2 linked regions of the Homo sapiens genome follow. The protein of the gene in region 2 purifies or fractionates together with the protein of the main gene of each other region. This does not show direct contact. Each region holds a gene or a part of one and is shown on either strand. Other genes may lie near its edges. The genes, in order: TYRP1 and ZNF431.

Evidence for each region.
Region 1: the proteins of ZNF431 (region 2) and TYRP1 purify together in Homo sapiens (affinity purification with mass spectrometry; 2 studies listed by BioGRID and IntAct, with this or other methods). This does not show direct contact.

What each region holds. Positions count from the first base shown.
Region 1 is NC_000009.12:12,688,666-12,696,574, reverse strand, and holds the start of TYRP1 (5,6-dihydroxyindole-2-carboxylic acid oxidase precursor), read right to left. Parts: upstream 3,191-7,909; 5' UTR 3,097-3,190; intron 2,664-3,096; 5' UTR 2,579-2,663; coding exon 2,194-2,578; intron 1,061-2,193; coding exon 738-1,060; intron 1-737. UniProt on the Homo sapiens protein: Plays a role in melanin biosynthesis. Catalyzes the oxidation of 5,6-dihydroxyindole-2-carboxylic acid (DHICA) into indole-5,6-quinone-2-carboxylic acid in the presence of bound Cu(2+) ions, but not in the presence of Zn(2+).
Region 2 is NC_000019.10:21,193,756-21,196,578, forward strand, and holds the end of ZNF431 (zinc finger protein 431), read left to right. Parts: 3' UTR 1-2,298; downstream 2,299-2,823. UniProt on the Homo sapiens protein: Sequence-specific DNA binding transcriptional repressor. Represses target gene transcription by recruiting HDAC1 and HDAC2 histone deacetylases. Acts as a specific transcriptional repressor for PTCH1 during embryonic development.

The sequences.
Region 1 (7,909 bases), on a different chromosome or scaffold from region 2:
AAAAATATTGCCTGACTGATATAATTATTTTGATATTTTTCAACTTTTTTTCAAATTTTACATATTTTAGGTGTACAACATGGTGCTTTGATATAAATATACATAGTAAAGTGATTACTATAGCCAAGCAAATTAAAATATCTGTCCTCTTATATAGTGATGTGATATTTTAATAGGTTTCTTCTGTAAGACTCAAAGGGTAGGGAACGTGGAAAAATATAGTTCAATGAAAATATGAGAGTCTAAATTGAAAGGAATTATTTTTCATGATTTAAACCCTATACCATGTTGGAGGGAATCATCGCTGGAATGATGAGATATACATTTAGGACTGGAAAGATTGAGAAGTCTCTAACCCACATCACTTGACCAGGAGGAGGAATCTGCTTATATTTAGTAGAGAAGGAAGACATGCAAATGAGATTCTTCTGTTTCAAGCTTTATGAAAGTCATGTTTTCAATGAAACTGCAAAATATTTTTAAACTTTTAATTCATTCCTGCAAATGTCTCATTTTGCTCATTATTGATTTTGCTTTATTTTCACTTCACCAAGATAAAGATTAATTAACAAGTAACCAAAATAAGGAGAAAACGAAATGCCAAAGACAGGTTAGTAACATAAAATTGCTTTTTCATCAAATGTTCTGATGATTCTGAAAACTAGTGAATTAAAATCACTTACAAACAAGGCATCTTGTCTGTAAAGAGTCTGCAAACTGAAATGCTTCTTACATACCTGCATGTCTTTCTCCAGACGCAGGAGGTGGTACCTGTGCCATGTGAGAAAAGCTGGTCCCTCATGAGAGAAATCCACTTCACCAAAGCTTTCCTGTCCTACCCCAAGGAAAGTCTTTTTGACTGAGTAATAGTGTGTCCAAACAAAGTAGTTATAAATGGAAATGTTCTCAAATTGTGGCGTGTTGCCATCTGGCCCCAGTATTTCTTCTGATCTCCTGGTGGCAATGACAAATAAAGGGTGAGTTGTGCGCTTTGCCATATCCAGGGCCCGGACAAAGTGGTTCTTTTCTTCTTTACTTAAGTCCAGAAGATTTCTCCTGACTTTAGGGATACAAAATTCAAGCATGAAAACATCTGCCTTGCGGGGATGGGTAGAGAAAGAGCATAATCATCTTGTAACACACCACGACCCATTTATCCATCTGTTCAAATGTGTTTTAAATTATTTTACACTTTTAAAAATATCCTTAACTAAAACCCTTTCTTCAAGCCTGCTTTCTCTCTCTTTCTTCCCTTTTCTCTCTCCAATTTACTGCATGATTTATATTACCTTTCTTTAATCTTACCTATGGATTTTATGTTTCTGTGACCTTGTCATGTTGATTTCTGCCCACTGTTGGCATTTTTGTTGGAATTTTCTGTCTTTTTAACATTATAAATCTTTGAAAATTAGGTGATATAACATAGTAGTTAAGACCAGAGAATTATTCTATGACTTTGGGCACATTTTTCCAAGTCTTAGTTTTTTTTTAATCATTAAAATGTGGATAAAAATAATACTTGCTTTACAGAATTGAAAGTTCAAAGACCACACACATAAAAAGCAATTAGCCCAAGGCCTAACTCATAGTAAGGACTCAATACATGTTCATTTAAACCCTTAGTCTACTATCTCGCACATAGAACACAATCAAATATTGTTGGCTGTTACTGTTTAGTGCTTTGTTATTTAATGCTATTTAGTCTGCAGGCCAAACTCTTCATCTCAAATGCTGAATTTGATCATCATGGTGGGAAACTTCTTTAAGGGTCAGCAGGGGTAGTTGCAGAACTAAAATATAAGGGCTAGGTAGATCTCAGCATGAATTCCAGGTTTACTAAATATCACCTGTGTGGATTTGAACTTTCTGAACCTCATCTATGACAATTAACATGTTTACCTGAAGGAGTTACTGAATTGACTAGTCATAATACCTAACACAGTTCCTAGGATATAGTGGTTGCTCAATAAATGTTTCAGAATAAAATATTGATCAGAAGTTCTGAGCTTCAACTCCAACCCTTTACATTAAACAAGTTTCTTAACCTTTCTAAGCCTCAGTTTCCTCAACTATGAAAAGAGAGGGTTGAGCTATATGATTTCCAGGTATTCCTCCAGCTCAAATGATTTAAGATTTTATTAAGAGCCTTGAGTCTCATGCAGGACTTATGAACTCATTCATATCTCCACTTACCTATGAGAACCCTCTGGTCACAGGCAGCTCCTCTCCAGCCAGGACGGCACGTCCCACAGTTGTGTCCTGAGAAATTGCCGTTGCAGTGACATGTCCTATTGAAGAAGCGCAAGGGCCAGACCTCCCGATCATCTCTGCCATCATGGGGATACTGAGGGCTGTGGGGCCGGGAGTCTGCAGTCACTGCCTCACATCTGCCCCTCCCTGATGATGAGCCACAGCGGTCTGTCCCAGGCCCAGACACAGGGGACAGGTCTGGGCAACACATACCACTTCTCAAAGCCTCAACAGTGGCACACTGTCTTGGGAATTGAGCCCGGGCCTGCTGAAAAAGTAGCAAGGGGAAGAAGATACAGCCCAGAGAGAGGAGTTTAGGAGCACTCATTCTGCTTGAAATAAGAGTGCAAAACAAAGACCTGGTTTGCAGCTCTTTGTGTAGAGAAGACTGAAGCACGTAGAGGAAAATCCAGCTGAAAAAGAGAAAGTAAAATGAGATTATGCAAGTTTTTCTTGGTACTTAAAATGGTATGCCCCCTTCCCAAACCACTTTCAAAATGGAACCCATATGTAAAATGACATTTCACACAAATAATAAAAGTGTGACATTTCACACAAATTTTACCTTTAAAATTTGGCATATATAACACCTGCATGTGTGATACCCAAATAATTAAATTCCCTGTCCTCGTCATTTTGTTTATATATATATACATACTAGATATCAGTTATCAAAAGCATGAATTAGCAGGTCACCATCATTAATTACATTTAATTTAACCTTGGAGCTGAAGGAAGAATTGGGAACAGATTTCCAGCAAGTTAATTTCTGTGATTTAAAGTCCCTTACACTAATGGAGTTTTGGCACGTGTCCACCCACTCCCCATAGGACTTCTTTCCAGTACCTCACAATCCTGAAGGATGTCTCTGATGAACTTCTCTTAGAATTGAATGTTTTATATTTGCTTGTGTTTCTTGTCCTCTCACGTCAGAACTGTTAAGTGCATGTGGATTGCTGCCTGATAATTAATCCCAAATCTGCTCACCCAAACTAGGCGGGGGGCTGGTCTTTTTTTCCACCCTTTACTAATCCTTTTCACTTCAGTGAATATTTCTGCCCTTTAAGGACTTGATCAGCACATGATTCCCTTCCAACTGATTTCCTTGTGATGCTTAAAGTTTTAAGAAAAGGCCAGAAGCACTAATTTGGAATACAAGTCAGATAAACTAGTGAGATTTGTTTACTTTGCAGAGATTTTTTTTTATTCTGTTATTCAACTGTTATTCAACATATTACCTTGCTAGAGCAACCAGGCAAGAGAAGGTATAAAGAGCATCCAAATTGGAAATGAAGAAGTCAAATTATCCTTGTTTGCTGATGATAAGATCTTATATTTGAATAAAACCTAAAGACTCCTCTAAAAAACTATTAGAGCTGACAAACAAATTCAGTAAAGTTGCAGGATACAAAATCAGCATACCAAAATCAGCAAAGTTTCCATATACCAACAGTGAAAAATGTGAAAAAGAAATAAAAAAGTAATCCCATTTACAATAGCCACACATAAAATTAAATACCTAGGAATTAACCAATGAATGAAAGGTCTCTATAATGATAACTACAAAACATTGATGAAAGAAATTGAAGAAGACACCAAATAATGGAAAAATATTATATGTTCATGGATTGGGAGAATCAAGATTGTTAAAAAGTCCGTATTACCTAAAGCAATCTACAGATTCAATGCAATTCCTATCAAAATACCAAAGACATTCTTCACAGAAACAGAAAGAAAATCCTAAAATTTATATGGAACACCAAACCTTGAAGAGGCAAAGTTATCCTAAGCAAAAATAACAAAACTGGAGGAATCATATTACTTTACTTCAAATTATACTACGGAGTGATAGTAGCAAAAACAGCATGGTACTGGCCTAAAAACAGACACATAGAGCAATGGAACAGGAGAACCCAAAAACAAAATCACACACCTACAGTAAAGACATTTTTCACCAAGATACCAAGAACATACACTGGGGAAAAGACAGTCTTTTTAATAAATGGTGCTGGCAAACTACATACCCATATGCAAAAGAATGAAACTAGGTCCCTATCTCGTTCCATATACAAAAATCAAATAAAAAATGATTTGATTAAATATTTAAATCTGAGACCTCAAACTATGAAACTACAATGAAGAAACATTGAGGAAAATCTTGAGGACATTGGTCTTGACAAAGATTTCTTGAGCAATACCACACAAGCACAGGTAGCCAAAGCAAAAATGAACAAATGGGATCACATCTAGTTAAAAATCTTCTGCACAGCAAAGAGTACAATCAATGAAGTGAAGAGACAACCCACAGAATGGGATAAGATATTTGTAAACTACCCATTTGACAAGGGATTAATATCCAGAATATATGAGAAGCTCAAAAAATTCTATAGAAAAAAATTAATAATCCAATAAAAAAATGGGCAAAATATTTGAGCAGACATTTATCAAAAGAAGACATACAAATGGCAAACAGACTTATGAAAAGATACTCAACATTATTGATCATTAGAGAAGTACAAATCAAAACTATTGTGAGATACCCTCTTACCCCAATTAAAATGGCTTATGTCCAAAATTCAGGCAATAAGAAATGTTGACAAGGATGTGGAGAAAAGGAAACCCTCATACAGCGTTGGTAGTAATGTAAATTAGTACAACCACTATGGAGCAAAGTTTGGAGTTTCCTCAAAAAACTAAAAATTGAGCTACTATATGATCCAGCAATCCCACTGCTAGATATATACCCAAAAGAAAGGAAATCAATATATTGAAGAGATATCTGCACTCCTATGTTTATTGCAGCACTGTTTACAAAGCTAAAATTTGGAAGCAACCTAAGTGTTCATCAATAGATGAATGGATTAAGAAAATATGGTACATATGCAAAATGCAGTAAAACAATGAGATCCAGTCATTTGCACCAACATGGATGGAACTAGACATTCTGTTAAGTGAAATAAGCCAGGCACAGAAAGACAAACATCACTTATTCTCACTTATTTGTGGAATCTAAACCTCAAAACAATTGAACTTATGGACATAAAGAGTAGAAGAATGGAGGCTGGGAAAGGTAGTGGGTGTCTGAGGGGAGTAGGGAAGTAGGGATAGTCAATAGGTACAAAAAAATTAGCAAGAATGAATAAGACCTACTGTTTGATAGCACAATAGGGTGACTATAGTCAATCATAACTGTATATTTTTAAATAACTTAAAAAGTGTTATTGGATTGTTTGTAACTCAAAGGATAAATGCTTGAGGGTATGAATACCCCATTCTCCATGATGTGCTTATTTCATGTTGTATGCCTGTATCAAAATATCTCACATACTCCATAAATATATACACCTACTCTGCACCCATGAAAATTTTTCTGCCTCATTGTGATTCATTCGAAGAAGAGAAGGGCATCAAAGGAGGATAACTAAGTCATCTGGATGGCCTGGAGCCATGTTTGAAAAATTTTATTGTTAAGTATTGTTTTTTTACTGGTTAAATCAATGATAACATTCTTTACTTTGTGATTGTGTTACTCAAAAGAAGGATTTTTTTAACAATGATAAAAATAAAGCTTGTTAGATCATTAAAAAATTTAAAAATTTATAAAAAAGAGTGGTCTGACAGAAGTTTTTAATGAGTGGACATATCATTTTTTTTTTTTTTTGGGACAGGGTCTCACTCTGTCGCCCAGGCTGGAGAGCAGTGGCATGATCAAAGATCTCTTAGCCTCACACATCTAATGGGTAAAATTCCTCATATACTCCTCAGTGTTTCCATCATTAAAGAAGAGTAGCAACAGACCCCCTTCCTCACTGAGCTTACTCTAGCTGGGCAGGCAGAAATATGACTGCTAAAATATGTCTGTGGAAATTTCTAATAACGAACACAAAAAAATAGAATTTTGCTGAAGAGTAAGATCATTATAGATTGCATAATCTGTTTTTTTTCTTGCCAGGGATTGAGGTTGCTAACGTTTGAAGAAAATGTACTACTGACACTTGGGGATTGTAGAGCTTCTATGGTGCCAAGATAATATTCTGTGCTTGTATTGCTATTATCTAAATGCACAATGGGAATCGATACCATGCGTTTCTAACATCCTTAAGGGCAAGGTAGTACACTCTATGAAGGATATTGTGATTACTGCCTGCACTGTGGAAAAAGCACAGAAGGAGACAAGAAATACAATAATCTGTAAAACAAACTGAAGCCTAATCAAAAGCACAGGTAAAATTCAGAACTTGGTCTACCCTATAACATTTTGAAGAATTACATGGTCTAGAGAAACCAGGAAAATTTCCAACTGTGAGAAATTAAGTACTCTCTCTTAGTAACCCTCCACTAAACAGGAAAACCAGAGATCTATGGGACTTACTGTTGGCAAAAAACACACTTCCTATTTAGGAACACTGCTGGTCCCTACTCACAAATAATGCAATGAAAAGCATTTAAAGATTTACAAAGGAGTGTGTCATCCTATCGGAAAGATTGGCCTGACTTCTCTGTTAACTTTTAGAATTGTCTTCACTAAAATGCCATAAATTGGGTACTATCAGAAATTAAATACTGCTAATCAAAGGAGACTCCAGGTGTTTGGAATTCAACTCCTCCTCCTCTTGCCTATTTTAAGGAAAATTTTTTTTAATTAGGCATTTGTGGAAGCTGACCTCACTACTAAAGGACATCGAATAATTCTGAGACCAGAAAAAAAAAACAGTTATCTTTGGGTAATGTCAGAGAAACAGTCAAACAGAGAGAGAGATAGAGAGAGAGGGAGAGACAGAGAAGATCAGGAGAACTTACTGATGAAAGGAAACAGTACATGCAAGAACATATGATGGGGGAGGTTTAAAGGGTAAAGCCTACTTCCTTTAGAAGCAAGAAGTAAATTGGCCTGTCATCCAAAAGACAGCAACTGCCACTATCTCACTTCCCCTTCATCTTGCTCGTAAAAGTAGCTTCATGTATAAAAAGAACTAACTGAAAGCCTAAATAATCTAAATCTTTTTTATATCTGATATAGAAATATAAAATCACATGTATAAGATTGGTCATATTGAAACATTTAGAAATAAGGTCTTGGAAATCCTACAGGTTGAAAATATTTTAAAAACCTCTTACCCTAAAAAGTTTAAAATTAAACCTTGAAATTTGCAGATGGAGATGTGTGGCACTGGATGGATTTATCATAATCAGTGTCAAATTTACTAATAAAATGGGATGAAACCCATATGCAGTGATGAATTGAGGAAGATCAAATGAGTTTGGCTACATTTCAAATAACTTTTTTAAATTGAATCAGCATATTATAATTTTCCAGGGTATAGAGGAGGAGATGAGACATTTAAGAAGTTAAAATTAGGCAATCTGGAGAGACACATGAAAAGCATTACCAGCAGTAAGGGACTTGGTGTGTTATGATTACTGCTATTTTTCTCACAAGCAACTTGTATACGTTTAGAAGGATTATCACTCCTCCCTTTTCTTCGTCTCTCTCTCTCTCCACTGACACACACACACACACACACACACACACACACACACACACAGAATGAGAGAGAGAGAGAGAGAGAGAAACATGCATGCACACACCATATGCTACTTACTCTGGAACGTATAAAGGCCCCATTACCTAAGGGGCCTTTGGTAATATAACTCAAAT
Region 2 (2,823 bases):
GTGTTTCACCATACAATTAAAAGCAAAAATTTATATGATTAACACAATAGATGCAGAAAAAGCATTCAAGAAAATCCAGTATTCATTTATGAAAATATTCTCTAAGCAATGATGAAACATACCTCACAATAATAAGAGCCATCTATGACAAATCCTCAGCTAACATACTGAACAGACAAAAGGGGCATGCATTTCTCATTAGAAAAAAAATAAGACTATCTAAACAATTCTATTTAACATAGTTCTGGAAGTGCTGGATAAATCTAACAAAATGAAAAAATAAATGGCATCCAAATAGGAAAAGAAGAAGTGAAATTACCTTCACTCATGATATAATTCTCTACCTAGAAAACTTTAAGGATTTTACCAAAAGACTCCTAAGGTTAAAAATGACTTCAGCAAAGTCTCAGGATACAAAATTGATATACAAAAATGAATAGCATTGCCTTACACCAATAACATTCAAGCTGAGAACAAAATCAAGAACAGTTTTCTTTACAATAGCCATAAACAAAAAATAATATACTTAGAAATACATCAAACCAGGGAGGTAAAATATCTCTACAAGAACTAGAAAACATTACTGAAAGTAATCAGAGACAATTCAAATAAAAAAGCTTTCTATGCTCATGGATTTGAAGAATGAATAGAAAATGTCTATGCTGCCTAGAGCAGCCTACAAAATAAGTTTTTGTTTTTTTATCAAAATGTCGATTACTTTTTTTTTTTTTTTGAGACAGTGTTGCTCTGTGGCCTAGGCTGGAGTGCAGTGGTGCGATCTTGGCTCACTGTAACCTCCACCTCCTGGGTTCAAGTGAGTCTCCTACCTCAGCCTCCCAAGTAGCTGGGATTACAGGTGCCCACCAGCACACCTGGCTAATTTTTATGTTTTTAGTAGAGATCGAGTTTTGCTGTGTTGGCCAGGCTGGTCTCAAACTCCCGGCGTCCCAAAGTGCTGGGATTACAGGTGCGACCCACCATGCCTGGCCCAACCCCATATTATTTCTGGTAACAAAGCACAGAAACATGATTTCTCGAATTTTGCTAGGATTTTAATTTACAAAAGAAAGGTGAATGCCATTAAAAGGTGTTTAATACACTCCCACCAGAAACAAGAGGCAAGGCAGGCCCTGGGGGCCTCACAAAGGCGGTCTTATGCAAGGGTGAGAAAGCAGAGTTATCAGGGAGGTGGGACTATTGCTTTATGAACGTGATGATTGGAAGCAAAAACGTGGGGCTTTTTCCTATTGAATACAAAGTAAAATAATGAATGCTGGTGTCAGTGGTTGGGAATAACAACATTTGCAGGCTCATGAGAGCTGCCTGACAAAAAGCGTGTAAACAACAGTGATTGCTCCTGTGGCCCTGTGATTCAGCAGGTTTATGGAGCAGTTAAGAATCGCAGATGTCAAATGGCCAACACAGAATCTAACGACATGCTTAATACAAATTATTATTAGTAGAAATGCTGAATTGCTTCATTTCTGCAATTTCTGCTGCTTCTTAAGATGCTTTTAATGAATAAAATCTGCCTTAAAATTTGATACCTGGTAACTTCTCTCTGTGAGTTTTGAATTGGCTGATGTAACCAAAATGCCAGCTCTTGCCATCTAACTACCATTAAAAGGAACTTCTAAAGCTCCGAAGTGGTCAACAGTTTCACTTCCAACTTTTTTAAAAGATACACAATTTTCTAAAAAATTTTTCTTTATGGGCGATTGAATAGTTGGGCTTTGGCTAATTCCTCATTAGCAATAGAATTATGTATATTTTGCAAACTCTAATACAGAACACTTAATGTATCAGACAACCATGATTATGATGTATATACCTGGTATAAACAATCTTTTTTGCATATTGAATTCTGCATTTTTTTCTTCCTTGATACGTATGAGATTCACCAGTACCAGTTTTTCTCTTGTGGTGGCATATAGTTGATTGTCATTTGCATTATCTATTAAAAACCTGTGGCAGCTCATGGTATTATTGACCATATGTTCTAGTGTCTTCTTGCAGATTTAAATATTTTATTGCAGTGTAAAGTTTAATATTTAGATGTGTGATACATCTTTGGATAATCTGTAATTAAATTGATCTTTTGTAATGGTGATAGTGATTAGCACACACTGAAAATCCAGCAAAGCAATTATTTTTCTCTTTTTAACTGGAAATCATATTCGTAAGTTGTGGTAGATATTATCATCAGTGTATTCATGATTCGATTTATATTTTGTGTTATCTGGTTATAAATTTTATATAGCATTCAATTTGACAAAATATAAATCTATTTGATTTGAATTTAATGGTGTGTGTGTGTGTGTGTGTGTGTGTGTGTACTTCCTTGAACTTTAGGAAATTCTACAAATCTTATACAGATATGAATGTATCAGGCTTATATTTTTTGCAAGGCTATATATACATTTCTTCTGTTTATTAAAATACTGGAATTGGTGTTATGTAGATATAGTTGTAGATATCAGAATAAAAATGGAATGTTGTGAAAATTACAACTTAATAAATATTTATGGCAAATAAATACAAGATAAAAATTATACATCTTTACAAGATAGTTATTTACAATTGCTTAGAGCTTACCTGTCCAGCCAAGGCCTATCTTCTTCAAGACTGTGCTGAGGCCTGGCACGGTGGCTAATGCCTGTAATCCCAGCACTTTGGGAGACCAAGGCAGGTGGATCACCTGAGGTCAGGAGTTCCAGATCAGCCTGGCCAACATGGCGAAACCCAGTCTCTACTAAAATAAATAAATAAATAAATAAATTAGCCAGGCATGGTGGTGTGTGCCTGTAATCCCAGCTACCCAGA